4 separate regions of the Homo sapiens genome follow, and all the other regions are linked to region 2. Evidence: fine-mapped expression QTL. A gene starts in region 2. Each other region holds a variant in brackets. All regions are shown on one strand. Distances are from middle to middle.

Region 1 (8,108 bases), 230 kb before region 2:
GCTGGTCTTGAACTCCTGACCTCAGGTTGTCCACCTACCTTGGCCTCCTAAAGTGCTGGGATTACAGGCATGAGCCACCTCACCTGGCCCCATCACTACTATCTAATTCCAGAACATTTTCATCACCCTCCAAAAATATCTCATATTCATTAGGCAGTCACTCCCCTATTCTCTCCTCTCCTAATAACCACAAATCTGCTTTTTGTCTCTATGAATTTATCTATTATGGACACTTTGTATAAATGGAATTATATAATGTATGGCCTTTTGTGACTGGTTTCTTTCATTGAGCATGTTTTCAAGATTCATCCATGTTGTACCATGTACCAGTACTTCATTCCTTTTTTTTCTTTTTTGAGACAGGGTCTTGCTGTTGCCCAGGCTGGAGTACAGTGGCATGATCACATCTCACTGCAGCCTTGACATCCCAGGCTCACACAATCCTCCCACCTCAGCCTCCCAAGTAGCTAGGATCACAGGCACATGCCACCATACCCAGCTATTTTTTTTTTTTTTTAATAGAGACAGGGTCTCACTGTGTTAGCCAGGCTGGTCTCAAAACTCCTGGCTCAAACAGTCCTCTCACCTCACCCTCCCAAAATACTGGGATTACAGGCATGAACCACTGCGCCTTGCCTTCATTCCTTTTAATGAACATATAATATTCCATTTTATGTATATACATTTTGTTTATCCATTCATCAGTTGATAGGCATTTGGATTGTTTCCACTGTTTGAATATTATAAATAATGGTACTATGACAATTCATGTACAAGTTTTTGTTTGAACATATGTTTTCACTTCTCTTGAGTATATGCCTAGGAGTGCAGTTGCTGGGTCATATGAAAATTCTGCTTAACTTTTTAAAGAAACTTGCCAAAGCAACTGCACCATTTTACATTTCCATGAGCAATGTTTCAGTTTCTCTACATCCTCACCAATTCTTGTTTTTATCTGTATTTTTTATTATGGCCATTCTAGCAACTGTGAAGTAATATTTCATTGTGGTTTGGGTTTGCATTTCCCTGATGAGTAATGATGTCGAGTATCTTTTCATGTGCCTATTGGCCATTTGTAGATCTTTCTTTTTTTTTTTTTTAGACGAAATCTCACTCTGTCTCCCAGGCTGGAGTGCAGTGGTGCAATCTCGGCTCACTGCAACCTCCACTTCCCAGTTCAAGCGATTCTTGTGTCTCAGCCTCCTGAGTAGCTGAGACTATGACCACCACGCCCAACTAATTTTTGTATTTTTAATAGAGACAGGGTTTCACCATGTTGGCCAGGCTGGTCTCAAACTCCTGACTTTAAGTGATTCACCTGCTTTGGCCTCCCAAAATGCTGGGATTACAGGGGTGAGCCACCACGCCCTGCCAATGCTTTGCTTTTGATGTTATATTTGAGAAACTTGCCTACTTTAAAGTCACAAAGATGTATACCTACGTTTTCTCCTAAGAGCTTCTAGTTTTAGTTCTTACTTTTAGGCCTTTGATCTACTTCGAGTTAATTTTTTATGTGGTGTGAGGTAGGCATCCAACTTCATTCTTTTGCATGTAGATATCCAGTTGTCCCAGCATCATTTATAGAAATGGTCTTTTCCCCCACTGAATTATCTTGGGATTGTGGTTAAAAATAGATTAGCCACAGAAAAAAAAAAAGAAAACCAAAATTTGTTGTCATCTCTTAAAGAATTAAGAATTGTACATAAAAACCTTACATCAATTAAAACAATGAATACATTTACAGTGTAAATGCAAACTTCTTCCAGCTCAAGGCAAGTAACAGCCTACCGGTGTCCTGGCAGGAAAACATCAGGAAAGAAAGGAAACTGGGTCCTAAGGTTTGGACTTTTCCAACCCTGACAGACGGGCAAGACAGAAATGACAACTGGTGGAGGAGCTCCTGCCGGTCTCTAGACGAATTCTGGAACCCTGAGCTCCGACACATTAGTACCCTGCACAGATGGAGAGACTGCAGGTCAGGCAGAATCACCAAGCCACGGACTTCTCTTCCACAAGCATGTTCTCACCTCTGCCATGAAGTGACTAAGCCACATGTACTAAGGGTTTAAATCAAAGATAAGTACAAGGTATTAAATACCAAGGGAACATTTAACTTCAGTACAAGGTCAAAATCAGCAACAAATCCTACAATCCAGTGCTGACATCAGATACAAGCTTCAAGGACAAATTTCTTTTCTTTTTTTTTTTTTTTTTTTTGAGACGGAGTTTCACTCTTGTTGCCCAGGCTGGAGTGCAATGACGCGATCTCAGCTCACCTCTGCCTCCCAGGTTTAAGCGATTCTCCTGCCTCAGCCTCCCGAGTAGCTGGGATTACAGGCATGTGCCACTATGCTCGGCTAATTTTGTATTTTTAGTAGAGACGGGGTTTCTCCATGTTGGTCAGGCTGGTCTCAAACTCCCGACCTCAGGTGATCCGCCCGCCTGGGCCTCCAAAAGTGCTGGGATTACAGGCATGAGCCACTGCACCCAGCCTGACAAATTTCTTTTCAAAGGCTTATTCCAGTTTCCTAAGGCTAGCATGAGATGTATACATTTTCCAGGGACAAATTTGTACTTCTGAATTGACTCAGGCAGCACAGGCTACGTATCTCATCACAGTCCATTTAGAAGCATTTGCGGTGAACAGTGGAGGGGCCTGACTGGTGGCACTCCCGCTTGCTGATCCACATTGGCTGGAAGGTGGACAGTGAGGCCAGGATGGAGCTGCTGATCCACATGGAATACTTGTGCTCAGAGACAGCCATGATCTTGATCTTCATGGTCCTGGGTGCTGGGGCAGTGATCTCCTTCTACATCCTGTGTGTGATACTTGGGTGCATGGCAATGCTGCCAGACAGCACCACATTGGTGTACAGGTCCTTGCAGATATCCACATCACACTTCATGATGGAGGTCAAGATGGTCTCCTGGATGCAGCAAGATTCCATGCCCAGGAAGGAGGGCTGGGACAGCGCCTCTGGACACCAGAACCACTCATTGCTGATGGTGACCACCAGGCTGTGGGAGAGCTTGTAGCTCTTCTCCAGGAAGGAAGAGGACACGGCAGTGGCCATCTCCTGCTGCAAGTCCAAGGCAACACAGCATAGCTTTTCCTGGATGTCACGCACAATCCCCCACTTCACTGTGGTGATGAAGCTGTAGCGGGCCCCTCGAGGATCTTCACCACGTAGTCGGCCAGGTCCCGGCCAGCCAGGGCCAAACACAGGATGACTGGGAGAGGGTGGCTGTATCCTTGGAGATGGGCAAGTGTGGGTGACCCCATCGCCTGAGTCCCCCATGGTGCCAATGGCACTGACAGAGGCATGCAGGGACAGGGTGACCTGAATGGCCCTGTACTTGACTGGGGTGTTGAAGGCCCCAAACATGATCTGAATCATCTTCTCTCTGTTGGCCTTGGGGCTCGGGGGCCTCGGTCAGCAGCACCAGTTGCTCCTTAGGGGCCACGTGCAGCCCATTGCGGAAGGTATGGTGCTAGATCTTCCCCATGTGGTCCCAGTTGGTGATGAGGCCTGCTCCATGGGGTGCTTCAGGATCAGGATGCTGCTTGCTCTGGGCCTCATCGCCCACATAGGAGTCCTAGCCCCTGCCCACCATCATGCCCTGGTGCCAGGGGTGCCTGACAATGGAGAGGAACATGACTTGAGGGCATTGTCCCCAGCAAAGGCAGACTTGCACATGGCAAAGCTATTGTCAACAATGAGCAAGGTGATTTCTGCTTCCATTGTGATCTGTCGGGGAAATGATGAGACAATGTCGAGTGTGGTCTGGCACCAGCCAGGGAGAAATTTAAATAATTTTTACCTAAAATTGTAATACATTATTCTATTTTGGTATAAATAAAATGGTTAAATAACATTGTGAGTTTTAATACACTTTTCAGTTTTTCTGTATTTTTCAACCACTTCCGCGTTCTGAAAAAAGCAACAATTTAAGAATATATTACAAAGTGTATGGTGCACACATTTTTTTATTTGCCTCAGGAGCCAATATGTTGAGACATGGCATTGTTGATTCAGCTGTGTGGGGCTTAACTATTGGAAAAGAGATTTTTATTTTTACTCTATGAGTTTGAGTATAGTGTGGAAAATCATCTGCTAAAAGTATCCCCATTTTACAGATGAAGACCCTATTAAGAAAGGCTAAGCAACCGCCCAAGGTCCCCAGCTCTGCTAGGTAGTTACCCTAGAGCTTGTGTTATTGGCCTCCATTCATGATATTTATAGACTTGATTAGCTAATAATCAGGTATTGTTTCTTGTATGTGGCTTTGTCTCTATTGATTGCATCCATTATATGTTAATATTTGCTTCTTACAGAATATTTAATAAGGTTGAAATATGAGTGGAAGGGACTTTATATACCACGGAGATAACTTAATCCATCCTGCAGTTCCCTAAGGAGCCAATAAAGGTGTCTAAGCCATAGAAATTGTGTAA[T/TTA]TATATATATATATATAGTTTTTTTTTTTTTGAGATGGAGTCTCAACTCTTGTCACCCAGGCTGGAGTGCAATGGCACGATCTCGGCTCACTGCAACCTCCGGCTCCCAGGTTCAAGCGATCCTCCTGCCTCAGCCTCCCGAGTAGCTGGGATTACAGGCACCCACCATCATGGCCAGCTAATTTTTTTGTATTTCTGTAGAGACCACGTTGGCCAGGCTGGTCTCGAACTCCTAACCTCATGTGATCCGCCCACCTTGGCCTCCCAAAGTGCTGGTATTACAGGCGTGAGCCACTGCGCCTGGCCTAGATATGTTTGAAAGAATAACGAGGGGCCAGTATAAAAGATAAACTGGAAACAGAGAAAGCAAGTTTTTTTAGGGTTGCTGGATGAGGGCAAATGCATAATTAAATGACGAATGTGTTCATTAAGGCAGTGGTGGGAAGAACAAAAAGAAGAGGACATAAAAGAGTGATTGAGGTGATTGACAAAAGAAGGGACATAAAAGAGTGATTGACACTTGAGTATCCTTTGAGTTGGGTTGTTCCTAGCCATCCTTTCCGATCTTCCTTCCTAACTTAAGTAGGTTAAGGATTAAGGTTTCTTCCACTCTAGTTCTTGATTCATGTTCACTGGTAAATAACACCACTTCAGACTCTTTCAAAGTGCTATAATATTGATTTATTTGATCCTCTCAAAAGAAGAGTACAGACAACCATTTTAGAATGACTGTTAAGGGTCTTAACTTTAAGGTTCAAAGGACACACAACTCAGCTGTTCTGCAGTTGAACCCTGTGGGTAACAACACAGACGAACTTCAGTCTGTTTGGCTGATGGGGCTGTGGAGAGAGCAGGACACACGTCTTCATGAAGTTTCAGTCCTGACAGTTTCTCATAAGGTATCATTTCTTACCTCTCTTTAGGACCATTCTGAGAGAATACATGTAGAGATCTTCAAATCAGGAAGGTCATCACCACTATCTTTCTTGCCATTATCATATCAATCTTCCCCAATAGTAACACAGGACTTCTCTTATAGCATCCAGCTAAACTGGTTTTTCACTTACTGATGCTTCCTAGAGCCTAGGAAAAGCATAGAGGACCTACCTGTCTATCCCTCTGTTCTGGACTGTTGATTCCATAGTTGATTCCTACCTCCAGGGGAATGCTACAGATGCCTCCCTTCCCAACCAAGCAACAGGGACTAAGCAATTAAGAACAAATTTTCCTCTAAAGTTGTGTCATATCACAGATTATTACCATTATCTGGCCTCTTCAAAAGAGAATGCATTTTCCTCTATATGTAACCATGAATGTATATATGTCCAAATGGATTTGTTCATCTGTGTTGAACTTGGGAGAACCTTTAGTGATCTTCTATGGAATTCCCACATGTGCTTTTATTTGTGGGTCTGAGGTCCCAACGGGAAAAATAGAGAACTGATCACTATCCTGGATCTTCTCACACAAGTATGGGAACATCTGAACACTCATATTTAGAATGTTTGGGGATTTGAGTGGAAAAGGTATTGTTACTGGATAGAGTTGTTGAGGTTCTTGGTGTGTTGAACAAAGAATTGAACAAGGCCAGGCACAGTGACTCACACCTGTAATCCCAGCACTTTGGGAGGCCGAGGTGGGTGGATCATCTGAGGTCAGGAGTTTGAGACCAGCCTGGCCAACACGACGAAACCCCATCTCTACTAAAAATACAAAAATTAGCCAGGGGTGGTGGCGTGTGCCTGTCATCCCAGCTACCCAGGAGGCTGAGGCAGGAGAATCGCTGGAACCTGGGGGGGCAGAGGCTGCAGTGAGCCAAGATCGTGTCACTGCACTCCAGCCCGGGTGACAGAGCAAGACTCCGTCTCAAAAAAAAAATTAAAAAAAAAAAAGAATTGGACAAAGTAACAAAAGAACGGAGCAAGGAAAGAGCGAAAGCACAGGTTTATTAAAGACAATTCGCAGAGTAGGAGTGGGCTCCTGCAAGCAGCTCAAGAGCCTTCTCAATTACGGTTTTTATTAAGCTAAAGGAACCTAGCAACACCCCTTGATGCCCTGTAGAGGCCTCCAATTGGCTACACCGTGAAGGATTGGCTGAAACCGAGACCCGACCAGCAGTCAATCAGGGGCTGAAGTGGCTTGTTATCATGGGAGTGAGGATGTGGCCTATATGCTGCACCTGCTGCTCTCCTGCCAAATGATAACAACCCTATGTTTAAAAACAGCTGGCCGGGTGCGGTGGCTCACACCTGTAATCCCAACACTTTGGGAGGCCAAGGCAGGTGGATCATGAGGTCAGGAGTTCAAGATCAATCTGGCCAACATAGTGAAAGCCTGTCACTACTAAAAATACAAAAATTAGCCGGGTGTGGTGACGGGCACCTGCAAAGCTACTCAGGAGGCTAAGGCAGGAGAACTGCTTGAACCCGGGAGGCATCAGCAACCGTGCCTGGCCAGGAGCTTGATAGATTCTAACATGCAAATAAAAGAGCAAAGGGCCAAGAGTGGCCAAGACACTCTTGAAGAGTAAGGTGGGAGGATTTATTCTATCAACTATCTAGTCTTATTGAAACAGCCTCGTTTTCTGGAGTAACACTCAAGGTTCGTTGTCCCACGGCCATGGAGAACAAGAACAAGGACACACAAATAATGAGGTTAAGAGTGGAAGTTTAATAGGCGAAAGAAAGAGAAGAGCTCTCTGCTGCAGAGAGGGGTCCTGGTAAAATAGGTTCCAGTTCTGCGGTGAAATGCAGGGGGTTTTATAGATGAGCTGGTGAATAGGCGGTGTCTGATTTACCTAGGGTGCAAAAAACTGGTTATATCAGGTGTGCCATTTGCATAGGGCACGAATTTCTGGTAGCCCCCACCCTAATCTTCTATTATGCTGGCTGGTTCTCTGCCTGAGCTGTGCCATGTTGCCCATTTATCTATTACTGTACACATGGTAACAAAAAAAGGGAAGATGAAACCTCCAGGGTGGACATGCCTGGTCCCCAGGTAGCCCTTTTCTATTGGCACAGCTGTCGGCATTCCCCCAGCAAGCCTCTAGCTTCCTTATTTATGTTTGCAGCTTGATTTGTCAGGCTGCTCTTTGTTAGGAAAAAAATGATTCTTGGCTGGGTGCGGTGGCTCACGCCTGTAATCCCAGCACTTTGGGAGGCCAAGGCAGGCGGATCACAAGGTCAGGAGATCGAGACCATCCTGGCTAACAAGGAGAAACCCCGTCTCTACTAAAAATACAAAAATTAGTCAGGCGTGGTGGTGGGCGCCTGTAGTCCCAGCTACTCGGGAGGCTGAGGCAGGAGAATGGCGTGAACCCGGCAGGCGGAGCTTGCAGTGAGCCAAGATTGAGCCACTGCACTCCAGCCTGGGCGACAGAGCGAGACTCCGTCTCAAAAAAAAAAAAAAAAAAGATTCTTGGGCTTTTTGTTAGACTGGAAGCTCTGCTGAAGACTCTGCTGACCTCACTATCTGCCTAAGTAATTTCTTTCTACCTCCTGTATCATTATGACAAAGCTATAGTAATTACGATACTCTGGTATTGGTTCAAAATTAAACAAAATGATTGATAGAACAAATTAGAGGTCCTAGAAGCAGACCCACACATATGCAAGCTTGATATGACAGAGGGGGCATTGGAGATCAGAGGGGA
Region 2 (8,108 bases):
CCAAGAAAGATCTGAGCTAGAAATTAAAGTGTGGGCATCATGGGCATATCGATGGCATTTGAAGCCATGGGAGGGTGGGGAGGAGTTGCAGGTGGGACAGTATTACCTAGGAAGACAGTGTGGACAGAGAAAAGGAACCAGGACCAGTCCCTGGGCAACCCCATGATTAGGAGTAAGAAGAAAAGCAGGAAACAGTGGGGCCAGAGGAGCTGAGAGGGGTGTTGTTTTGAGGAGAGGGAGTGGTCATTTGTTAGGAATGCTGCTGAGAGAGGTGAAGTGAGGTGAGGCTGAGATCTGGCAACCCCCTGGTCACCCAAGACCCTGGCAGTTTTGGTGCAGAGGTGAGGCAGAAGCAAGACTGTAGAGTATGGAGAGTGAACAAATGGCAGGAGAAAGTGAATGGAGCCAGTGGGTTTGGATGTATCTTCTGAGGTGTTTTCAGGTGAAGAAGAGCAAAGAAGTGAAACAGGAGAGGGATGTAGGAGGGAGGGAGATCTCCTTTTTAAGATGAGAGCAACTAAAGCTATGCTATCCAATATGGTGGCCACTAGCTACATGTGGCTATTTAAATTTAGATTAAGTTAAAAATTCAGGTCCTCAGTCTCAACAACCACATTTCAAGTGTCCAATAACCACATGTGCTGGTGGCTGCCACGCAGATACAGAACATTTCCAGCAGTGCAGAAAGTTCTGTTGGTCAGATGTATGCTCCTATACTGATGGAGAAGACCCCGGAGAGAAAGGTGGTTAGGAAGGAGAGACAATCTCTGAAAAGATGGGAGGAGGAAGGGATGGAATGGAGGCTACCCCAGAAGAAGGGGCCCCTAGTAGGAAGAGATGAGGGACAGGTCATCCAGCACAGCAGGCAGGTAGGAGAAGGTAGCAGCAGCTGCATACTAGACTAGGTGGTGGCAAAATGAAGACATTCCCTTGGTCAAAGGTGCCTATCTTGTCAATTGAAAGGGAAGCCACGGGGTGTGCCTAGGAAGGGGAGAGGTCTGGAAAGGGGAATAGGTATGAAATAGTTGCCTTAGGGAGTAAGAACACAAACTCACTGGAGAGGCCACACTTAACACAGAACACTTCGCAGAAGAGAAGTGGAAAATGGTAGTGAACATTTGAGGGAGGAGAAGCATCTCAAGTTGGGGGGAGGTAAACTCAGATAGTTTGTTTTTTTTTCCCTTAAATCCTAGTCCTGTCTACACAGCAGAGCCATGACGAAGCTGTAGGATCGCAGCAAGGTTTTCTACTAGCTGCCCTTTCAAAAAGTTCTTCCCCCTCCATCCTACACAACTCTCAGAAAGGATGACATTGGTTCTATTTTCAGTTAAAACGGCTCCCTCCACCCTCCTGTCTGAATTGCTTCCCCAGCCCTTAGCTGCATCTCAATTTACGACCATGGCTTGTATTTTCACATAAATAATAGAAGACATGGATCTATTAAAAATGGCAGAGGTAGGTAGGAGTTACAAACCAGCCTTTATCTACGAGAAGTGAGTAATATATACATTTATCGAATGATGTTAAAATTACATGAAAGACATATTCTGTGTTTAAACAAAATCCCCAAGCGTCTCCTCCCTGCTTCTCCACAAACAAAAATTATTTTTTGACATTTTCTTTAAGGTTTTATGAGTGAGTAAACATTTTCATTTCCACAGAACTATTTGATCTCAACCACAGAGTTTCAGTACTTGTTTTTGATCACACAAGTACGGTGGATTGGTTTTGTGTTGGCCAGGGGGAGGGAGGGCCAGAAAGAGAGTTAAAATTACCGGATCCCTTTTATCTTCCATTCTGAGACCTTACATTTGCCAACTCCTTTTTCCCTGTACATTTTTTTAAAGTATGAAATCTGAGAACCTCAAAGGCTCTCACTGCTCAAAGATCAGCCTTTTCACAGTCCACTGAGGACTCACTGGAAATGTTACAGAAATACGGCCTGCCAACTTGGGTGCCTCTGGGTAAAATCACCCACAGTTGCTGTTCATGTGAAATCTCCTAAATGTAAGCACACTTCTTCAGCCCTCGCTGCTCATCTCGCCTCCTCCTCTCTGTCACCCACCTCTGTCATGTCCAGTTCATGTTGGCCCACAGCCCTCACACTTCCATTCCTCAAAATTCCTCTTGGCCTGCCTCTGATCCCCTCACACACTCTGCAGCTCCCATGGCTAAGACTCACCAGGCAAAATGACTCCAGAAACTTAACCTGGAGTACGGTGCAAGAAAGCCACTGACCCAGGGGGGCTGAGCCAGGGCACCAGGACAATCTTGCTCCTTCCACTGCACTCTTGCCTTCCCAGGCCCCACCCATCCCAAACAGGAAAGCAAGATCTCTAGACCCTTGGAGCAGAAGCATTTGAGTCCTGCGAAGGGCTGTTGGAAGAATGCTGGGTTCAGCAGCAGGGAACAGAGAGATTTAGGAATTCTGGTTCACTTACCCGCCTCCATGCCCACGTCAGGCAGTGGCAAGGCCACCCCTGCTACACAAATGCTCATCAACTACACAGCCTGGGGGAAGTCACCGAACCACTTTGTGCCTCAGTTTCCTCATCTGTAAAGTGGACATAAGTGTCCCCTGAATACGTATGGCAAACCGTCAACGTGTGCCCAAATAGAGTGAGCAGATGTAAGGAGTTATTGTGCTATTAGCACAGTGGCTCCCAGACTCACAGAGCCTACTGCTCAGAGAGACGCCGAGGGGAAAGCTTAAATTACTTTATATACTCAGAAGCATTAGTCACTTCGACAGAGTATTTCAACTTCCCTCCTGAGCATCTACTCAGTTGTTTCAAAGACTGAAGCCTCACCTAGGTTCCTTATAGACTTCCATCATCTTCAGCATCTCAAAGCAGATCCAAAGTCCACTATTCCTACGCTGGAGGTTTATTATTATTTGATTATTTCCAGGAAAACTTCGATTTCCATTTTGCTTGTAATAAATCCAAACGTGGAGAACGACAAACTGCTTAGACTCACACAGGCCCTGGAGTTGACTGCGCCCAGGGGCGAAGAGACCGCGGAATGGCCGAGGCAGGAGGCCGGCCAGGGCACCGGTCCCCGTCAGGTGCCCCCGTGCCCGGGCTGTATGGGAGGGGAAGGGCCACGGGCTCCGCGCCCAGGCCAGGGTGCCCCTGCTGGGTGTCCGCGTGCCCCGGCGGAGGGCGCGGGTCAGGTGGCCCCAGACTCCCGGGCGCAGAGTGTGCGCTCGCTCCGGCTTGGGGAGGCGGGGGCCGGCCCGCCGGGAGGCTCCGAGCCCGGTTACGCCAGCCGCGGCCCCGCAGTCCCTCCGGAGGGGCGCGCGGAGAGCGCGCGGCGCGGGCTCACTCACCCCATCTCCGGCGCTGCTCCGGCGGCCGCTCCGACGGGGCCTCTCGCGCTCGCTCTCCGCCCGCTCGGCAGCCGCTCCCCGCGCGGCACATGCGGCGGCCCGTGCGCGCCCGGCTCAGCCCCGGCGCCGCTCCATTCCGCGGGGCTGCGCGGCTGCCACTGCTGCCACTGCCGCCACCGCCGCCAGGCGCGGGCGGGCGGGGGCTGGGCGGCCGCGCTGGGGCGGTGCCCGCCCCGCCCTCCCCAGCCGCTACCCCCGCCCGGCTCCTTACGTAACCTCGTGGCCCCCGGGCCGCGGCAGCGAGCCAAGAGGCGGGGGGCGCAGCACTGTGTGCACCGTCCCCCGCGCAGCCGCGCAGTCGCCGCTTTTCTCCCGGGCCACCCAGTCCTCGGTGCCGGCCCCGCGTTGGCGCGCCCCCGCCCCACGCCGACCCGGGGCCCTGGCGCAGTGCCATCAACATCCTGCCTGATGGACTTAAAGTCCCATTCACACCTGGCGGGGACTTTAGGGCTACCTTTACTTTGCAGATAAGGGAACCGAGGCCTGGGGAGGGTAAGTGATTTGCCCAAGGTCACACATTCAGATTAGAGTTCGTTCGGGTCTCCAGAGTCTGAGATGGGCATAGCTGTGCTCCTCCTTAAAGCCCACCTTCATCTTCCTGCCAGTTGCCCGGCCGAGTGGCCTTAAGGTACCCGCCACCGTGAAATTTCGGAAGCCAGCCTGGCAGAGAAGAGCCTACAGGCCGCGGCAGATGCTCTGGGCTCTTTCCTGGATAAAAATGAGATGAGGGCTCCCACTTGAAGGGGCAGTTTTAAGGCGGCTTCATCAAGCTTGGTTTTATCCTTAGAGCGAGGGGAATTAGGATGGCAAAAGTAGAACTTGAAGAAGAGCAGGCTCTCTTCGTCGCCTTTCTACCTATCAGGTCCTGAGTTTCTACCAAAGGCTGGCACTGGGACTAACCTAACCTTCATCCCCCGGGACTTCCACGGGATCATCTTCTGCTGGGAACACACCGCCCACATAAGCCTGGCATCTCAGGACAGTAAAAAAGTCAAGGGACAGGTCGGGCGCGGTGGCTCACGCCTGTAATCCCAGCACTTTGGGAGGCCGAGGCGGGCGAATCACGAGGTCTGGAGATCGAGGCCATCCTGGCTAACACGGTGAAACCCCGTCTCTACTAAAAATACACACACACAAAAAAAATTAGCCGGGCGTGGAGACAGGCGCCTGTAGTCCCAGCTACTCCGGAGGCTGACGCACAAGAATCGCGTGAACCTGGAAGGCGGATCTTGTAGTGAGCCGAGATCGCACCACTGCACTCCAGCCTGGGCAACAGAGCGAGACTCCGTCTCAAAAAATAAATAAATTAATTAATTAAATACATAAATAGCCGGGTGTGGTGGCGTGCTCCTGTAGTCCCAGCTACTCCCAGCTACTCGGGAGGCTTGATGCAGGAGAATCGCTTGAACCCAGGAGGCAGGGGTTGCAGCGAGCCGAGATCATGCCACTGCACTCTAGCCTGGTGAAAAGAGCCAGACTGTCTCAAAAAAATAAATAAATAAATACAAAATAAGTTTGTAAAAAATAAAATAATCTTGGGAGTTTCCAAATCCTCCATGCATAGTAATCAGCAATATCAGGAAAGTGAGCTTGTAGAACACTGAACAAGTCATTTATCAGGTAATACCTGAGGATTCTGAAGTGTTCGAATAACTTCAAAGGCAAGCCACTGAAATCAGAGTTTTTCATTTTTATTTTATTTTTATTATTTTTTTTTTGAGACGGAGTCTCACTCTGCTCACCCAGGCTAGAGTGCAGTGGCAGTGGCGTGATCTCGGCTCACTGCAACCCCCACCTCCCAGATTCAAGCGATTCTACTGCCTCAGCCTCCCCAGTAGCTGCGACTGCAGGCGCATGCCACCACGCCCAGTTTTTTTTTTTTTTTGTATTTTTAGTAGAGACAGGGTTTCACCATGTTTCGATCTCCTGACCTCGTGATCCACCCGCCTCGGCCTCCCAAAGGGCTGGGACTACAGGCATGAGCCACCGTGCCTGGCCGAGTTTTTCATTTTTTTAAACTACAATCCACAGTAAGAAATATATTTTACACTACAACCTGCAACCTGGTACATACTTCAGCACATACATACTATGTCTATAGGTATATCGATATAAAATAGAAACAAAAAGTTATATAAAACAATGTTTATCCTCTCACTTGCCAGGCAGGCATTCAGACATCATTCTGTTTTGTTGTTGTTGTTGTTGAGACAGAGTGTTGCTCTGTCACCAGGCTGGAGTGCAGTGGCATGATCTCAGGGCACCACAACCTCCGCCTCCCAGGTTCAAGCGATTCTCCTGCCTCAGCCTCCCAAGTAGCTGGGACTACAGGCGCGCACCACCACCCCAGCTAATTTTTGTATTTTTAGTAGAGACAGGATTTCACCATGTTGGCCAGGATGGTCTCCATCTCTTGACCTCGTGATCGGCCCACCTCAGCCTCCCAAAGTGCTGGGATTACAGGCGTGTGCCACCGTGCCCGGCCCATTCTGTTCTATTTTTAAAAGCAGTACTGCTCATAACCTACTAAATTGATTTCAAAACCTATAATCTACGTATTTTTACTTTCTTTTTCTTTTTCTTTTTTTTTTTTTTTTGAGACGGAGTCTCACTCTGTTGCCCAGGCTGGAGTGCAGTGGCGCAATCTTGGCTCACTGCAACTTCTGCCTCCTGGGTTCATGCAATTCTCCTGCCTCAGCCTCCCGAGTAGCTGGGGCTACAAGCGCATGCCACCACACCTGGCTACTTTTTTGTAGTTTTAGTAGAGATGGGGTTTCACCATGTTAGCTAGGATGGTCTCGATCTCCAGACCTTGTGATCCGCCTGCCTCGGCCTCCCAAAGTGCTGGGATTATAGGCGTGAGCCACCATGCCCGGCCTGTATTTTTACTTTCAACAGCAAAATTAGGCTCACCATGTACATGCATAATGTTGTTATTAGTGTGCTCAGATTTCTGGTATGGCTGGTCCAGGGACTTCAAACATTTTTTTTTCTAACCATAAAAGGTCAGTTCTTTCAACTGCATATGAAACAAATGTATTATTAAAGCCATTAATTAAAGGGATAACTGTCGGGTATTATGCAGCTATTACATTATATTTGTGAAGCCTATATAGTAACATAGAAATATATTTATTCTTTCAATAAATGTTGATCACCTGCTGTGTATCTGGTACTGTGTTGGGCATAAAGTGCTCAGCAAAACAGACGTCCTTCTGTCATAGGACTATAAGATTGTGTGAATGGTATTAATCAAATAATCACACAAATATATAAGCTACGATCTGTGTGAATAGGAGACCTAATTTAGGTTGAGGAGGATGGTCAGGAATGGCCTGTTGAAGAGACATTTAAAAAGAGGCCTGATGGCTGGGTGTGGTGGCTCATGACTGTAGTCCCAGCACTTTGGGAGGCCAAGGCAGGCAGATCACTTGAGGCCAGGAGTTCAAGACCAGCCTGGCCAACATGGCAAAACCCCATCTTTACTAAAAATACAAAACCTAGCCAGGCATGGTGGTACATGCCTGTAATCCCAGCTAATTAGGAGGCTGAGGCAGGAGAATCACTTGAACTCAGGAGGCAGAGGTTGCAGTGAGCTGAGATTGCATCACTGCACTCCAGCCTGGGTGACAGATTGAGACTCCATCTCAAAAAAAAAAAAAAAAAAGAAGAGGCTTGAAGACAAAGAAGCATCAGTCATGGGGAGCATGAGGGGAGGGTTCCAAGCAGAGGAAACTGCAACGGCCCTGAGGTGGTAGAGAATCATGCTGTTCTGAAGAGCTGGGAGAAGGCCAGTGTGGTTAGAGTGCAGTGAGCTTAGCAAAGCATGGGTGAAGTATGCAGGGCCCTTTGGCTGGATTAAGGATTTGCAATTTATTCAAATGCAGTGAGAACCCACTGATGGGTTGGGGAATGCCGTGATCTGGTTTATATTGTTAAAATATCACTCACTCCTGGGAGAAGAGGGGATAAGAAGGGGACAAGAGTAAAACATGGAGACTGGTTAAGAGGCTCTAGACAAAAGATAAGGGTGGAGATGAAGGGAAGTGGATTACAGATTATAGATATTTTAGAGGTAGACTCAATAAGACTTGGTGGATGGGATGTGTATTAGGATATAAAGTTAAGTTTGTAAAATAATCTGAATTACAGCTGTGCTATGAGTATAATTATGTAAAATTAGAAAATATGGACAAGGCCTGGAGTATAGAAAATGAAAAAGTTTATTAGGATGGCAGAAGGAATATAGGGTAAAGGCATCAGTATTAGACTCAGACCTGCATTAAGTCCTGGATCTACCATTGACTATCTGTGACCACGGGCAAGTTTTTAACTTCTCTGAGCCTCAGCGCTCTAATCTACGAAGTGGCGATATCTCTTTGGACTATTAAGAAGAGTGAATGAGAACAGGTGTGGTGGCACACACCTGTAATCCTAGCACTTTGGGAGGCTGAGCCGGGTAGATCACCTGAGGTCAGGAGTTCAAGACCAGCCTGACCAACATGGTGAAACCCTGTCTCTACTGAAAATATAAAAATTAGCTGGGCATGGTGGCACATGCCTGTAATCCCAGCTACTCGGGAGGCTGAGGCAGGAGAATCACTTGAACCCAGGAGGCAGAGGTTGCAGTGAGCCAAGATACTGTGTCACTGCACTCTAGCACGGGCAACAGAAGTGAGACTCCGTCTCAAAAAAAAAAAAAAACAGAGTGAATGAG
Region 3 (8,108 bases), 20 kb after region 2:
GATGTTGGCAAAGGTGACAGCAAACTGCTGCCTCTCTTCCACCTTATTCTCTAAGACATAATTGATCACATCACTTATGTCCTCTCATGTTTTTTCTGATTAGAAAAGGGATTCTCATTGAGGAAATTCAGAAAGTGGATAGAGAAGCAGAAGAATTATCCATAGTTGTTTGTAAGCATGTTAAATAGCTGCTTAAAACTGCACTGCATCGATACACCATAACTTAATAGCTTCCTGTAGGAAAACAGCCTACTGCATGGCAAGAGTCACACCATCTTGGGGCGAAACTGCCATGATGTTTGATCTCCACACACAAAGGTATTCTGCAGTAAGGTCTTGAAGCAACGCTGTACACAGATAAACCCTCATAAAGATGCTTACCTAACCTCCCCAGTGGTCATGAATCTTGGAAGAAAGTCTGAAGACATGACTAGCTGCACGTCTTTACCCTAAAAGCTTGCTATTTATAAAGGGCGGATGCGGGGATCTACGATTCTTATGGCTGCCTAGACATCACTTCTGTTCATAAGTCCCTATGAAATGTTTCCCTCTGAGAAGCTGGGTTTGTCAGCCTCTTTCTTCGTCCTCTAAGCTCCCTCAGCCTTTGTGGGTAGGTTCACATACACCTACTGACCAAGGAACACTCCTCATTCACTTCTGCATTTTAGAGATCCAGGAACTAAAGCTACAATAAATGTTTACTTAAAGAGACGAAGAGACATCTAAGTGCATACAGTAAATGAGATAGGTAAGACATGGAGCCAGACGTTTTATTTGAAAATTATCTTTATGAAATTGAAACCATAGTAATAAACTTAGGGAAGATGCAGGGATAGAAAGAGAACAGTAACTGAAAGTTAACACTTTAGAAATTCCAACAATTACTGGATAGTAAAAATAAAAATAAAAAACTCTATAAATGAAATAGAGGAAAATTAACTTAAATAGAACCTTTGTATCCTCAACAACTACAGAAGATGCCTGCCACACCCATGGAATAAATGTTTGTTTAACTGAAACGAACACAACAGCTGGATGAAAAGAGACCTAGGATATCTGATGGCGGTGAAAGAGGATTATCATGTGGAAAATAACTCATGCCTAAACACTGTGAGGATCATACATGGTAAGTGAGGGGCAAAGGCTCCATCCAGCTTATAGGTGGTAGCTGAAGCCATAGGAATAGATACAATTGCACATGCAGAGTATGCAGAATGAGAAGAATTTTGAGCAAGACCTCCTCAACCTGACCAGAAACTTTTCTTGCCTGAGGCAGGGGGAGGACAGAGCTGTCAGCAGGGCTTGGGGACTATTAGGAGTATCTAGATCAGCAGATAATTTGAGAGGGCCCAAGAGAAGGAGAGGCCTATGTTTTGGGGCCTGAGAGAGGTTTCTTATCGCCAGTGATTTTATCACCAGGGCTCTGAAAAATGGATAGGACACTTCCTTCCAAACAATGTAATCTTCCCTGAAAATGGACCTAATAACATGCCTCACATTACCATCAAGGCTAAATTGGACTCCACTGACTCATAATTCTTTTTTTATCTTTGGTTTTGATCCTTACTTCCCATACAACTCAGTAAATGACAGCACTGCTCTTCTTCTACTGAATAATCTATTTCAAGGATGGGCAGTGGAGACTCTATAGTTGTGTTTGCTATTATTACCTGTGCCATAGTAGAATCCTTTATAGCATTCATGTCGAATGTAAAGGAAAAGAGAACAAACAAAACGAAGTAGATTGATATCTTGCTAGGTAAATCCTCTGAGATAAAATTTCTTTCAAATGGAGTCAGCTGTGTAAGAAAAAAAATGGCCTCTTCTTGCCATGCTGTGTTTTGCATGGATGTTGTGGCTAAGAAACAGCCTTTGACTACAATAATATGTGGGTAAAAATATCTCCAGCTCCTGTTTGTCTAAAAATGGCCCAAGATAAATAAGCCTTATCGCTGGCAAAATTCAATTCCCTTTGGCAGATATTTGTTAATCACCAGCTGTGTTCCAGAGCCTGTGCTGAGGACACAGAGGTGAAAAGCCATAGTCCATGGCCCCTGGTAACTCCTGGATACCCAGACATAAGGAAGGGACTCCCTGAATTATTGATGGGAAGAAAACAGTCCATTCAAAGGGAAGATGTATTCCTCATTGTAAATTAATACACGGGCACCTGTTTACTGAGAACATCATGAGCTTGGTTAACGTAACCCAATTCTTGATAATGAGCAGCTCTGGATTTCTGGATGTTTTCAGCTAAAGATTGGGCTCTGGATCGTGCCATAGGTGCAGGTAAGTAAAATTATGGGGGGTAGGGAAGAGGAAGCTCATGTGCTCCTTCCTGTAGTCCTAACTTCCACAGGGCACTGGGGCATGGCTCGTTTCTAACATTGGTGATTCCTATCCTTTCTCAAGAATTCTGAATCAGGTGAGAGAGAGAGAGATAGCGAGAGAGAGAGCAAGAGAGACAGATACATACACACACACACACACACACAGACACAGAGAAAGATAAACAGAAGCTGTTGAGGAGGCAGAGCTGCTAAGGGTATCATTTTTTTTTCTACTTTGACACCATTTTCAAATAAATTTTAGTAATTGTGTCACTATCCAGCCTGGATGGATAGCCAGCTTCACTTTGACATTTCTCTTTAGATGCAACAACCTTACAGTGGAGAATTTATTTAAAATTTTAAATAGATTTTAGAGGATTCTTGGAAGCAAGAAACTATGGCTCTTGCCATTAATCTCTGACTGTGCTAAAATCAGTCCAGTTCTGGGCCAGTGCTTCAAAACCCTTCCTTTACTGTGCAAGGACAGAACAGAACTGATATGGGGGTGGGGGAGGGAACTAGCTATTTCTGCCACAGCCAATAGTAATATTATGACTGTCATCTTTCCAAGAGGTACATCAGGACACAGACTACTCAAAGGTAGATGTCTGGACACTAAGATTTTAATCATTAACTCCTGCCCTTAAGGTTTTCCAGGCCTAAATCTCCTCTTCTATTCTCTGTGCCATATTATCCTGGGGTTTCAACCAAGTGCTTCAAGGTTGTATATTCGAGCTAGCTTGCTAGCGTCCTCCCTTCCTTCTTTTGCTCTTAGGTATAATTTACCTACCATAAAATTCACCCATTGTAAGTGTACAATTCATGATTTGTAGCACATTTATGGAGTGTGCAGCCATCACCCCTATGTAGTTTCAGAATGTTTCCATTAGCCCAAAAAGATCCTTAATGCTCATTTGTAGTCAATCCCTATCCTACCCTAACCCAGGCAATCACAAATCTGCTTTATGTCTCTATCAGAGCTTCTTTTTTGAAGAAAATTTTGGCCTTAACCATCCAAGAACTCCTGCACCTCTACCTGAAGGTGGGGTGCCCTTCTGGCTAAGAATACAAATTATGTTCTTAAAGTTTTACAATAGAATGCAACTTTATGCTGGTGTGTCTGTTGCAGGCCATGGCCACGTCGGCCATGGAAAGCACCCGAGTGGAAATAAATAGAAAATTCTTCTCCTGCCTCAGCCTCCTGAGTAGCTGGATTACAGGCATGTGCCACCACACCTGGCTAATATTTTGTATTTTTAGTAGAGATGTGGTTTGTCCATGTTGGTCAGGCTGGTCTCCAACTCCTGACCTCAGGTGATCTGCCCACCTGGGCCTCCCAGGTGGAGGTTGCAGTGAGCTGAGATGGCGCCACTGCACTCCAGCCTAGGCAACGAGAGCAAAACTCTGCCTTAAAAAAAAAAGAAAGAAAGAAAATTCTTAGGCACTGCAGTAGAGGTACAAGAAAATGGAGATTGCCTCAAGTGCTGGCACAGCAGGAATTTCAAAGCCTCAGATATGGATAATAACCGCAGGTGACGTGGCCTTCTGAGTAACAAAATGCTTTATATGGAGGTAAAAGTTGTATCTGGGTGCTAAGCAGTGAGCCCACAGTTCTACATGCTTTGGATCTGGTGGACATCTTACTCTCTGTGAGTTCTCAAGAATCATTAAATTCGGAGTATACCTCCATGAGGTACAAAAGAGGCAGGCAACAGGGAGCCTCCCTGCCTCCTTGTCTCATTTATATCTTGCACTGCTCT[A/T]CTCCAGCTTCAGGAATAAGTCAAAGTAAAAGGAACTATAAACTGTGTCCAGGTTGTCTCTTGAACCCTGACAGGCTCCAACTTCTGGCTACAGCAGTGTCTAATATGAAAGCAAACAGACCTTGCTTCAATCAAAACCACAAAACATCTGCATTCTAGTCTCTCACCACAGAGCAATCTTGACCACCCTGCCATCCAGCTCCTATGTCTCAGAAATATGCCTCAAATATGTTTTTCTGTAGGTTCCTGAGTTATCCCTTCCATGGGCAGGGCACAGGCTTTGAAAAAAGAACTGGCTTTAAATCTCATTTCTCCTGCTTGCTTATCATAACTGCCCGTCATCTGTAAGCCTGGATTGTAAGAGAGGGATAATATGTAGCCAGGTAGGTTGTTGTGAGAATGAGTAAATATAAATATAAAGCTCTGCCCAGTGCCTGGCATGTAGTAAATGCTCGGTATTTACTACATAATGGTAGCGCTAGTAGTCTTCATATTTTAACATGGTTGTTTTCATAGGACAATGACAAAATGTTTGTATTAGAACCTCTCCCTTCTCAAGCCAAGTTAGAGTGTTTTATTTTGGTTTGGAAAACAGTGCAACTGTTTGTTAATGCTTATCATCTAGGCTATAGAAAACACATCATAGTTCATAAAATCATTATAATCTCATTTTGGAATCAGGAAACTGAGGCTCAGAGAAGAATCTCAGCAAAGTCACTCAGGTCATCTGCATCCATCTAAAGCCAATGTCTGGCCAGGCATGGTGGCTCATGCCTGTAATTCCAGCACTTTGGGAGGCTGAGGTGGGCGGATCACATGAGGCCAGAAGTTCAAGACCAGCGTGGTCAACATGCTGAAACACTGTCTCTACTAAAAATACAAAAATTAGCCAGGCATGGTGGTGCACACCTGTAATCCCAGCTACTCGGGAGGCTGAGGCAGGAGAATCACTTGAGCCCAGGAGTCTGAGGCACGAGGGTCACTTGAACCCAGGATGCAGAGGTTGCAGTGCACAGAGATCGTGCCACTGCACTCCAGCCTGGGTGAAAAAATTAAGCCAATGTCCTTCCCACTTAAAAATACTAAAGATCAGCCAGCCGTGGTAGCTCACACCTGTAATCCCAGCACTTTGGGAGGCAGAGGCGGGTGGATCACCTGAGGTCAGGAGTTCGAGACCAGCATGACCAACATGGAGAAAACCCATCTCTACTAAAAATACAAAATTAGCCAGCCGTGGTGGCACGTGTCTGTAGTCCCAGCCACTCGGGAGGCTGAGGCAGGAGAACAGCTTGAACCCGGGAGGTGGAGGTTGCAGTGAGCCGAGATCGCGCCATTGCACTCCCGCCTGGGCAACAAGAGCAAAACTCTATCTCAAAAAAAAAAAAAAATACTAAAGGTCTCCATAGAGCAAAGGTTCTCCACTCACCTATGGGAGGGGCAGACTTCTACCTACCATGGTGAAAACAGAGTCAATACACGACAATGTCTAATTAGAATGAATATGCTCTAATCTGAGGAGAGAGACATATTTCCCTAGGTAAGGGTCACAGTTCATATTCCAAATATGACTGGGATGATATTGCACAGGGGCTCCCTGGGGGCACTTGGGAGAGAAGACTAGTAAAGAGCTCTGTGAGTCACCCCACAGGGAAATGCAGCAGTCTTGGAGTCTGTCTCTGAAGAGTATTCTACAAGAGAATTAGGACCCACTGTGAGCCACTGTGCCTAGCCGACATTTCTTAAAAGAAGACATACAGGCCAGGCGTGGTGGCTCATACCAGTAATCCCAGCACTTCGGGAGGCCGAGGCAGGTGGATCGCCTGAGGTCAGGAGTTCGACACCAGCCTGGCCAACATGGTGAAACCCTGTCTCTACTAAACATACAAAAATTAGCTGGGCGTGGTGGTGGGCGCCTGTAATCCCAGCTACTCGGGAGGCTGAGGCAGGAGAATCACGTGAACCCAGGTGGCAGAGATTGCAGTGAGCCAAGATTGCACCACTGCACTCCAGCCTGGGCAACAGAGAGACTGTCTCAAAAAGAAAAAAAAGACACACAAATGGCAAACAGGCATATGAAAAGGTGCTCAACATCACTGATCACCAGAGAAATGCAGATCAGAACTACAATGAGGTATCATCTCACCCCAGTTAAAATGGTTTATATCCAAAAGACAGGCAATAAATGCTGGTGAGGATGTGGAGAAAAGGGAAGCCTCATACATTGTTGGTGGGAAGGTAAATTAGTACAACCACTATAGAGAACATTTTGGAGGTTCCTCAAAAAACTAAAAACAGAGCTACCATATGATCCAGCAATCCCACTGCTAGGTATATACCCAAAAGAAAGGAAATCAGCATATCAGAGATATCTACACTCTCATGTTTGCTGCAGCACGGTTCACAATAGCTAAAATTTGGAAGCAATCTAAGTGTCTATCAACAGACAATTGGATAAACAAAGTGTGGTACATATACACAATGGAGTACTATTCAGCCGTAAAAAAAGAATGAGGTCCTGTCATTTGCAACACCATAGATGGAACAGGAGGTCATTACATTAAGTGAAATAAGCCAGGCACAGAAAGACAAACATTGCATGTTCTCACTTACTTGTAGGATCTAAAAATCACAACAATTGAACTCATGGAGATAAAGAGTAGAAGGATGATTACCAGAGGCTAAGAAGGGTAGTGGCATGGTAGGAAGGTGGGGATAGTTAAATAGTACAACAAAAATAGAATGAGTAAGACCTACTATTTGATAGCACAACAGAGTGACTACAGTAAATAATAACTTAATCATACATTTGAAAATAACTAAGAGTGTAATTGGATTGTTTGTAACACAAAGGATAAATGCTTGAGGGGATAGATACCCCATTCTCCATGATGTTCTTATTTCGCATTGTGTGCCGGTATCAAAGCATCTCCTGTGTCCCATAAATATATACACCATGAACCCATATAAATTAAAATTAAAAAAATTTTAAATAAAATAAATTTAAAAAGAATGGTCAGTCTGCATCCTCTGCACCCAAGAATCCATATTCCTCACAGGAGCTCACTTCTGGCAATCCACATAGTGTGTGTGTGCACGCACTCCGTGTATATGCTTGTTGCAGAATCACCTTCTTCAGTAAATTTCTCAGGGTTAATTTCACTTTCCTCTTATTCTTCCTTTACCCTGAAGTACCTCTATACTTATATATCTAGTTGCAATTATCTCTCCCTGCATCCCATTAGATTATCATGCACTATTTATTTATTTATTTATTTATTTATTTTTGAGACGGAGTCCGCTCTGTCGCCCAGGCTGGAGTGCAGTGGTGCAATCTCAGCTCATTGCAACCTCCGCACCCCGGGTTCAAGCGATGCTCCTGCCTTAGCCTCCCAAGTAGTTGGGATTACAGTCACCCACCACCACACCCAGCTAATTTTTGTATTTTTGGTAGACACAGGGTTTTGCCATTGTTGGCCAGGCTGGTCTCGAACTCCTGACCTCAGGTGATCCACCCGCCTCGGCTTCCCAAAGTGCTAGGATTACAGGCATGAGGCCACACTATTTTATATACTGCATATATTACCATCATAACTATCTTCTGGTTGACTCTACAATTAGTACGATTAGATCTTAAGATTTGTGTGTGGTTTTTTTTTTTTTTTTTTGAGACAGAGTTTTGCTCTTGTTGCCCAGGCTGGAGTACAATGGCGTGATCTTGGCTTACTGCAACCTCTGCCTCCAGGGTTCAAGCAATTCTGCCTCAGCCTCCCAAGTAGCTGGGATTACAGGCATGCGCCACCATGCCTGGCTGATTTTGTACTTTTAGTAGAGACGGGGTTTCACCATGTTGCCCAGGCTGGTCTCAAGCTCCTGACCTCAGGTGATCTGCCCCCCTCGGCCTCCCAAAGTGCTGGGATTACAGGCGTGAGCTACCGTGCCCAGCTGTGTTCCACATTTTTTTTTAACTCTCCTCACTCCTCCAACACTAAGCCCAGAAATATATTGTATAGCAATGTTT
Region 4 (8,108 bases), 73 kb before region 2:
TCAACAATGGCTTATTCAGTAGAAATCATTGCAAGCCCTAGGACTCTAAGAAACACTCAGGAAAAATACTCTTGGAAATAAAGGATTACTGGGTGTCTATGTAAGGGCAGGGTAGCAATAACCACTGGCTGCTTCCCCATCAGATGATCTGAACAGGGAATAAGAGCAATCTAAGTAAGTATTCTAAAGAGTGAACCTACCAGCAATTTTACTTACTAAGGTTGTTTATTCTCAATGGTCAACTCAGAACACTTTCCTTGTAACTGATAAAACAGAGAAGACAAAAAAAGTTTGAATGGCATAGGGCTTGCTTTCTGTGGTAGGAACCTGAGTCTACTCTTTTGCTAAAGGACAGACCTTCCAGATACAAACCGTTGCCTTAACTAAAGGGATCTAGACAGTAAGTGACAGCTGTCAGTAGTAACAGAAGTATCATTGCTCTTGCTAGATCTACATTTATCTATCTATCAGACTATTGAGTTTGCTGATAAGCCACTGGCTCAAGAGAAAACCTTAGCTTAGCTGGTAAAATAATTTTTAGAATACTAACAACAGCAATTACTATTTGTTGAACACTTATTGAGTGCCTCATTTATATTAGTTCACTTAAACCTTACAACGAGCCTATGCATACGACTATTCCTTCATTTCACAGAAGTAACTGAGATTTGGGAAAGTTTTTTTGTTTGTTTGTTTGATTTTTTTGAGACAGAGTCTTGCTCTGTCACCCAGGCTGGAGTACAATGGCATGATCAAGGCTCACTGCAACCTCCACCTCCTAGGTTCAAGCGATTCTCCTGCCTCAGTCTCCTGAGTAGCTGGAATTACAGGTGACCGCCACCACACCCGACAAATTTTTGTATTTTTAGTAGAGAAGGGGCTTCATCATGTTGGCCAGGCTGGTCTCAAACTCCTGACCTCAGGTGATCCGCCCGCCTTGGCCTCCCAAAGTGTGGGATTACAGTCGTGAACCACCGCACCTGGCTGAGATTTGGGAAAGGTTAAACTAACTTGCTTAAGGTAACACATTAAAGCTGGCCAGTAGGAGACTCTAGAGATAAAAACCCAGTTGTCTGACTCCAAGACTTGTCCTATAAACTTCCATATCATGTTGCTTCTCATTTTATACACGATGAAGGAAACATTACTGCCCCTCTTCTTTTCCCCATCTATGAAGTACTGATGTTCATGTGCTACGGTCCAGCTGACTTTTCCTTTCTTTATAATAACCCTTCCATAATGCCAATGTCCATCTGAGTCAGGACATTTTACCAAATGTTTTCCATCTGGAAAACTGAATGCAACATGAGAAGTCAAGAGATCTGTCTACTGTCACTGGACACTATCAAGAGATGGGGGCAGGGAAGCAGGGCGTGGAAAATGGAGATCTAAACTACTGGCAAGTGTAGGGGAAAGCTATGGGACCTTGGAGGGTGGGGGGATTCTGGCTCAGCCCCAAGCAGGGTGGATATGGTGGAACCAAGACAGACCTAAGGAAGGTGTGTGGCTGGGAGCTGGATCAGGATGGATCACGTGACCCCAGAAAGCCAACCCTGGTCATCTCTCAATTACCAGAATCCTGGGAGGACAAAGCAATGACTACATCCATTCAGAAACTGGATTCACTTTAAATCTTGCTGCTACTTCACTGCAGGCCTATGCCCCTAGGTCAGTCACCACACCCCAAGTCTCCTTGAAAGGCAGTGGAAAGAGGCTGGCCAGAGTATAGGATATGGCTCTTAAGCTCACCCCATACAGGCTATCCCAGAGGCAGTCAAGCTAGAATAACAATGGTGATACCCCCTGCTATTTCCTTAAAACTTAGTTTCTAGGGCACTTTTTCACAGTCTTTAACCCCCATTTTTTTCAGATGGCGAAACTGAGGCTTAACAAGGTCAAGGGACCTGTTCAAGGTCATAAAACTAATAAGTGGCTAAAAAGAATATAATGTATGTCTTACTTACAAAGCAACAACGGACTGATTTCTAGAGCTAAGTCTATTTACGATGGCTGGAGGTTCATTCAGCTTCTTAAATCTGTAGACTCATCAGTTTTTAGAAAATTCTCATTCTCTCCATGAATATTGCTTCCGCTCTATTCTCTCTCCTTGCTTCTACTTCTGGGACTCCAATTACAGACATGCTAGGTCTTTCATTTTTCTTTGAGATAGGGTCTTGCTCTGTTGCCCAGGCTAGAGTGAAGTGGCACAAACATGGCTCACTGCAGCCTCGACCTCCTGGGCTAAAGTGATCCTCCCGTCTCAGCCTCCCAAGTAGCTGGGATTACAGGTGTGCACCACCATGCCCAGCTAATTTTTGTATTTCTTGTACAGATGGGGTTTCGCCATGTTGCCCTGGCTGATCTCAAACTCCTGGGCTCAACCAATCCATCTGCCTCAGCCTTCCGAATGCTGGGATTATAGACAGGAGCCACCATGCTGGCCATGCACAATATTTTTTACACTCATCAATTATTTTTCCCTGATTCTTGGTACTCTCTGATTCTATTTGGGTATTTTCTATTAATCTGCTTTCCAGGTCACTAATCCTGGCCACTGATGTCTCCAATCTGCTGTTAAATCTATCCATTGTTATCTTAATTTCAGACATTGTTATTTTTTAGTTCTAGAATGTCCATTTGGCTCTTTCAAAAAAAATTCTAAGACTCTGGGAGTATTCTCCTTCCTTTCATCTATTTTGTCCATTTTCCCTCTGTTTCCTTGAATATATTAATCGTAGTTTGCAGGCTCATGCCTGTAATCCCAGCACTTTGGGAGGCAAAGGCAGATGGATTGCTCGAGCCCAAGAGTTCGAGACCAGCCTGGACAACATGGCAAAACCCCATCTCGACTAAAAATACAAAAATTAGCAGGGCATGGTGCTGTGCACCTATAGTCCCAGCTACTCAGGGGGCTGAGGCAGGAGGATTACCTGGGGCTCCGGAGGTCAAGGCTGCAGTGAGCCGTGATCGTGCCACTGTACTCTAGCCTGGGTGACAAAAGTGAGACCCTACCTCTAAGAAAAAAGAAAGAAAGAAAATAAAGAAATCATAGTTTGCAATAGCATTGTCTTAAAAAATAAAAACAATCTGCATACCTTAATTTTAAAATATTTTATTGCTAAAAAATGCTAAGGACCATCTGAACCTTCAGCAAATTGTAATCTTTTTGCTGATGGAGGGACTTGTGTCGATCCTGATGGTTGCTGACTGATCAGGGTGGTGGTTGCTGAAGGGTGGAGTCATTGTGTCAATTTCTTAAAATAAGACAACAATATTTGCTGCATTGGTTGATTTTTCCTTTCACAAAAGATTTCTCTGTAGCATGCAATGCTACTTGACAGCATTTTACCTACAGTAGAACTTGCAAAAACAATGTCCACTACCAACAGAATGGATAAATACACTGCAGTATTTCCATACAATGAAATACTAATCCAGCAGGAAAATTAACCAAGGCTAACCAAATTGATCAGCATGGATGAATCACAAAAATTTAACATTAAAAAAAAAGAAGGAAGTTACAAAAGAACACATACATTATGAGTCTCTAGTATGATTCTATTCATATAAAGGTCAAAAACAGGTAAAACTGAATAACAGATTATTTAGGGCAGGGGTCAGCAAACTATAACCCTCAGGCCAAATCTAGCCTATGGCCTGTTTTTGTAATTAAAGTTTTATTGGAAGACAGCCATGCCCATTCATTTACATATTGGTCTATGGCTGCTTTCTGGCTACAAAAGAGTCAAATATCTGCAGCAGAGACTGTACAACCTGAATAAAAAACTTTTTTAAAAATTACTCTCTGACCCTTAGAGAAAAAGTTTGCCAACTTCTGGTTTAGCGATATATACACATGTGGCAAAACTATGCAGAAAAGCAAGGGAATGCTTAATACACTCTTAATAGAGTGGTGATCTCTTGAGGAGTGGATGGGAGAGCATCTAATTAGGGAAAGGCCCATTGAAGGACTTCTGAGGTATTAATGAAAGACGTACTTCCACTGGGTGGTGGGTACATATGGGTTTGCTTTATTATTAGACATTGAATGGTACCTATTAATACAAATGGTTAAAAATAAAGTCTACAAACCCATAACAAAGTTGTTAGGGAGGCTAATCTTCAGAGTGGGCAGAGGCTTATGAAAACAGCAGGTAGTATCCTTCCCGCCCATGGAGACACTGGAAGATTGTGTTAGGGACCGAGGAGGTGGCTGGACCTGTGGGTTCTGGCGTCAGAGGAGATACGAGACTTGAGTAAACTGGGGGATGAGAAGTAAAGGGGTCACCGGGTGGAGAGTGTCATCTGGTGGAAGAAAAGAAGAGAGGCCCAGGGCAGAAGGCTGACTTAAGGAAGCAACCAAGGAAGAGCAGGTGAAGGAGTTGGCAGTACACGTGCCACAGGTGGCCAGCAACCAAGGAAGAATTCAGCCCTGGGAGCCAAGGGTGAGTGTGTGAAGGATGAGGGCACAGCTGAG[T/C]GCCCTCAATGCGGCAGAATGACTTAGCAGAATGAGAACTGTTTACCCCTGGAGAGAGGGGAGAACGGACCTGGGGGAAGGAACCAAAGCCCAGAAGGGAGAAGGGGCTGTGCTAAAGCACCCCAGGCATAAGCTTCATACAGGCTCCCATCTCTGTGTACACCTTCTTCTTGCGTGAGTCATCTCTAAAACTTTCACAGAGAAAGAAGCCACCCTAGTAAAAGACCCAGTCCTGCAGATCAGTGGGACCAAGTTGTCACAAAATGCACAAAACACAGGTAATCAAGAGCTGCTTGGAAGCAGCAAAATGCTAAGTTTCTCCTGTCTCCAGTCTCACCTGCTCTGGATTTCAGAGGAAGCTGCTCATGAAACAGGCAGGGGGAGACAGGCCCATCGGATTCCTTTCATGAGAAGTCTTTCCCAAATCCAGGGAGATGAAGTTGGATGAACCTGGGAGTTTTCCATAAGAGGCTGTGACTGAGTTACAGCAATAAAAAGACATGTTGCCTGCTCCAAGAGTAGTTATTAACAGGTGCTTTTTAAAAATTTAAAACAACAACAACAAATCACAGACAGCGAAGAAAAGAAATATTCACTGAAAACCTACTGTGTGCTCGGAACCTTCCTTATGCTTGCTCCCTTAACAGAAGGTGCTCTGTATTTATTCAAAGGAGTGAATTCTAATGAGGAGTGGACGAGCAGAGCCTGAATGTGTTCCTGAAAGTAATTTTACATTTCCAAAAGAAAATACCAAATAAGTCAGAGTTTTGGATACTGATATCCTCTGAACCATCACAATCAGGCAGCACTCGCAACACAACAGGTGTGGCTAAATATTTGTAGAATGGATGACCTCTAAGGTCTCTTCCAATACAGGTTTCTGTGATCCTATAAAATAACTGAGAACCAAGGGCAGCAGAGTCATCCAGAGCTCCCAGGAGAAGCACCTGCTTCAGGCAAGTCTTGTCCACAGGCAGGCAGTTTCTCATAAGGATGGCAGTGATTAACTCAGTCTGGAAAGAGTGCCAACAGCACAATGAAATCAAGTGCTGTGATGGCTCAATTAACCAATGCTCTGAAAATGGAGTTTCTTTATAATGGAGTTGGCCGTTCTGCCTAAAAACTCACCATAAATCACATGCCTATTGGCATGTGCCACATGGTTTATAGCAGTGCTCTGAGAAGCTGGGAGTGGGGAGATGCCCTCATGTGGCTCCCATCTGTCCAGTGTCTATAAACAGGGACAACCCAAGGTTTGGGTCCTTGGGTCCCCCCTTGGCAGTGACCCTGCTGTCCTTCTGTGGACACAGTACACCTGCCACAGGCCTGGAGAGAAGGTGGCCAGGCCTGACCTCATCATCCACTCATTCCCCCACCCCCTTCTATGGCGTTGCCCACCCTGGCTTGGTGCTAGGACTCCAAAGATGAGCCAGGCATGGCTGCCATCCTCAAAGAGCTCACAGTCTCCTGGCAGCCCCAACACTGACATGGATCCACATAATCCCCTAGAGCTTGGGCAATGCTGAGGCAACACACTGAAGTTTTCCCACCCACTCATGTCTTTAGACAACAGCTGGAACTGACACATGAAACATTGTCCCGGGGAAGAAGGAAATGTCTTCGTGTTTTAAGAATAAAGAACAGGTCTGAGTACAGATCTTCCTGAGATGAGTAGCACCAACTGCTTCCAGAAGGAGGAGAGGCTGTCCATGCATCCCTCCCCAGGTAGAGCGTGACACATGCTTGGACAGGGCAGAGGAGCTGGCTGTGCCTGGCATGGAATGACAGCTGCTGAAGCTGTTGGCCACAGCTTTCCTTCTCAAAGAGCCTGTGCTCTTTGGCTGCCCACAGTTTACACAGAAGCTGAATCTGATGTGGCGTTTGCTCAAAATGAGCTGAGTCCATTCTACACCAGCCACTGCTTTTTTTTTTTTTTTTTTTTTTTTTATTATACTCTAAGTTTTAGGGTACATGTGCACATTGTGCAGGTTAGTTACATATGTATACATGTGCCATGCTGGTGCGCTGCACCCACTAATGTGTCATCTAGCATTAGGTATATCTCCCAATGCTATCCCTCCCCCATCCCCCGACCCCACCACAGTCCCCAGAGTGTGATATTCCCCTTCCTGTGTCCATGTGATCTCATTGTTCAATTCCCACCTATGAGTGAGAATATGCGGTGTTTGGTTTTTTGTTCTTGCGATAGTTTACTGAGAATGATGGTTTCCAATTTCATCCATGTCCCTACAAAGGATATGAACTCATCATTTTTTATGGCTGCATAGTATTCCATGGTGTATATGTGCCACATTTTCTTAATCCAGTCTATCATTGTTGGACATTTGGGTTGGTTCCAAGTCTTTGCTATTGTGAATAGTGCCGCAATAAACATACGTGTGCATGTGTCTTTATAGCAGCATGATTTATACTCATTTGGGTATATACCCAGTAATGGGATGGCTGGGTCAAGTGGTATTTCTAGTTCTAGATCCCTGAGGAATCGCCACACTGACTTCCACAATGGTTGAACTAGTTTACAGTCCCACCAACAGTGTAAAAGTGTTCCTATTTCTCCACATCCTCTCCAGCACCTGTTGTTTCCTGACTTTTTAATGATTGCCATTCTAACTGGTGTGAGATGATATCTCATAGTGGTTTTGATTTGCATTTCTCTGATGGCCAGTGATGATGAGCATTTCTTCATGTGTTTTTTGGCTGCATAAATGTCTTCTTTTGAGAAGTGTCTGTTCATGTCCTTCGCCCACTTTTTGATGGGGTTGTTTGTTTTTTTCTTGTAAATTTGTTTGAGTTCATTGTAGATTCTGGATATTAGCCCTTTGTCAGATGAGTAGGTTGCAAAAATTTTCTCCCATGTTGTAGGTTGCCTGTTCACTCTGATGGTAGTTTCTTTTGCTGTGCAGAAGCTCTTTAGTTTAATTAGATCCCATTTGTCAATTTTGTCTTTTGTTGCCATTGCTTTTGGTGTTTTGGACATGAAGTCCTTGCCCACGCCTATGTCCTGAATGGTAATGCCTAGGTTTTCTTCTAGGGTTTTTATGGTTTTAGGTTTAACGTTTAAATCTTTAATCCATCTTGAATTGATTTTTGTATAAGGTGTAAGGAAGGGATCCAGTTTCAGCTTTCTACATATGGCTAGCCAGTTTTCCCAGCACCATTTATTAAATAGGGAATCCTTTCCCCATTGCTTGTTTTTCTCAGGTTTGTCAAAGATCAGATAGTTGTAGATATGCGGCGTTATTTCTGAGGGCTCTGTTCTGTTCCATTGATCTATATCTCTGTTTTGGTACCAGTACCATGCTGTTTTGGTTACTGTAGCCTTGTAGTATAGTTTGAAGTCAGGTAGTGTGATGCCTCCAGCTTTGTTCTTTTGGCTTAGGATTGACTTGGCAATGCGGGCTCTTTTTTGGTTCCATATGAACTTTAAAGTAGTTTTTTCCAATTCTGTGAAGAAAGTCATTGGTAGCTTGATGGGGATGGCATTGAATCTGTAAATTACCTTGGGCAGTATGGCCATTTTCACGATATTGATTCTTCCTACCCATGAGCATGGAATGTTCTTCCATTTGTTTGTCTCCTCTTTTATTTCCTTGAGCAGTGGTTTGTAGTT

Direction of the effects. Alleles are on the strand shown, and positions count from the first base shown. SD is a standard deviation of normalised expression in the study named. Not every link is listed here.
With allele TTA in place of T in region 1, the expression in prefrontal cortex of the gene that starts at base 3,521 in region 2 is lower (moderate effect, 0.69 SD a copy in ROSMAP).
In carriers of allele T in region 4, the expression in thyroid of the gene that starts at base 3,521 in region 2 tends to be higher than with C alone (moderate effect, 0.49 SD a copy in GTEx).

Evidence for each region.
Region 1: its variant is fine-mapped to the expression of HOMER2 in prefrontal cortex (ROSMAP, PIP 0.95).
Region 3: its variant is fine-mapped to the expression of HOMER2 in whole blood (INTERVAL, PIP above 0.99).
Region 4: its variant is fine-mapped to the expression of HOMER2 in thyroid (GTEx, PIP above 0.99).

What each region holds. Positions count from the first base shown.
Region 1 is chr15:82,723,683-82,731,790 of GRCh38, forward strand. It overlaps the pseudogene ACTG1P17. Among named protein-coding and RNA genes, the nearest start is that of AP3B2, 18 kb to the left of the region's middle. The variant T/TTA (reference allele first, on the strand shown) is at 4,457.
Region 2 is chr15:82,949,200-82,957,307 of GRCh38, forward strand. HOMER2 (homer scaffold protein 2) reads right to left here and starts at 3,521. Exons shown (of 9, transcript NM_004839.4): 1 at 3,332-3,521. The coding sequence starts at 3,336. RefSeq lists an enhancer at 2,771-3,271.
Region 3 is chr15:82,968,942-82,977,049 of GRCh38, forward strand. It overlaps a transcript of HOMER2 not described here. Among named protein-coding and RNA genes, the nearest start is that of RAMAC, 13 kb to the right of the region's middle. The variant A/T (reference allele first, on the strand shown) is at 4,091.
Region 4 is chr15:82,876,483-82,884,590 of GRCh38, forward strand. All of the region lies in intron 2 of HOMER2 (homer scaffold protein 2), which reads right to left. Among named protein-coding and RNA genes, the nearest start is that of WHAMM, 71 kb to the left of the region's middle. The variant T/C (reference allele first, on the strand shown) is at 4,478.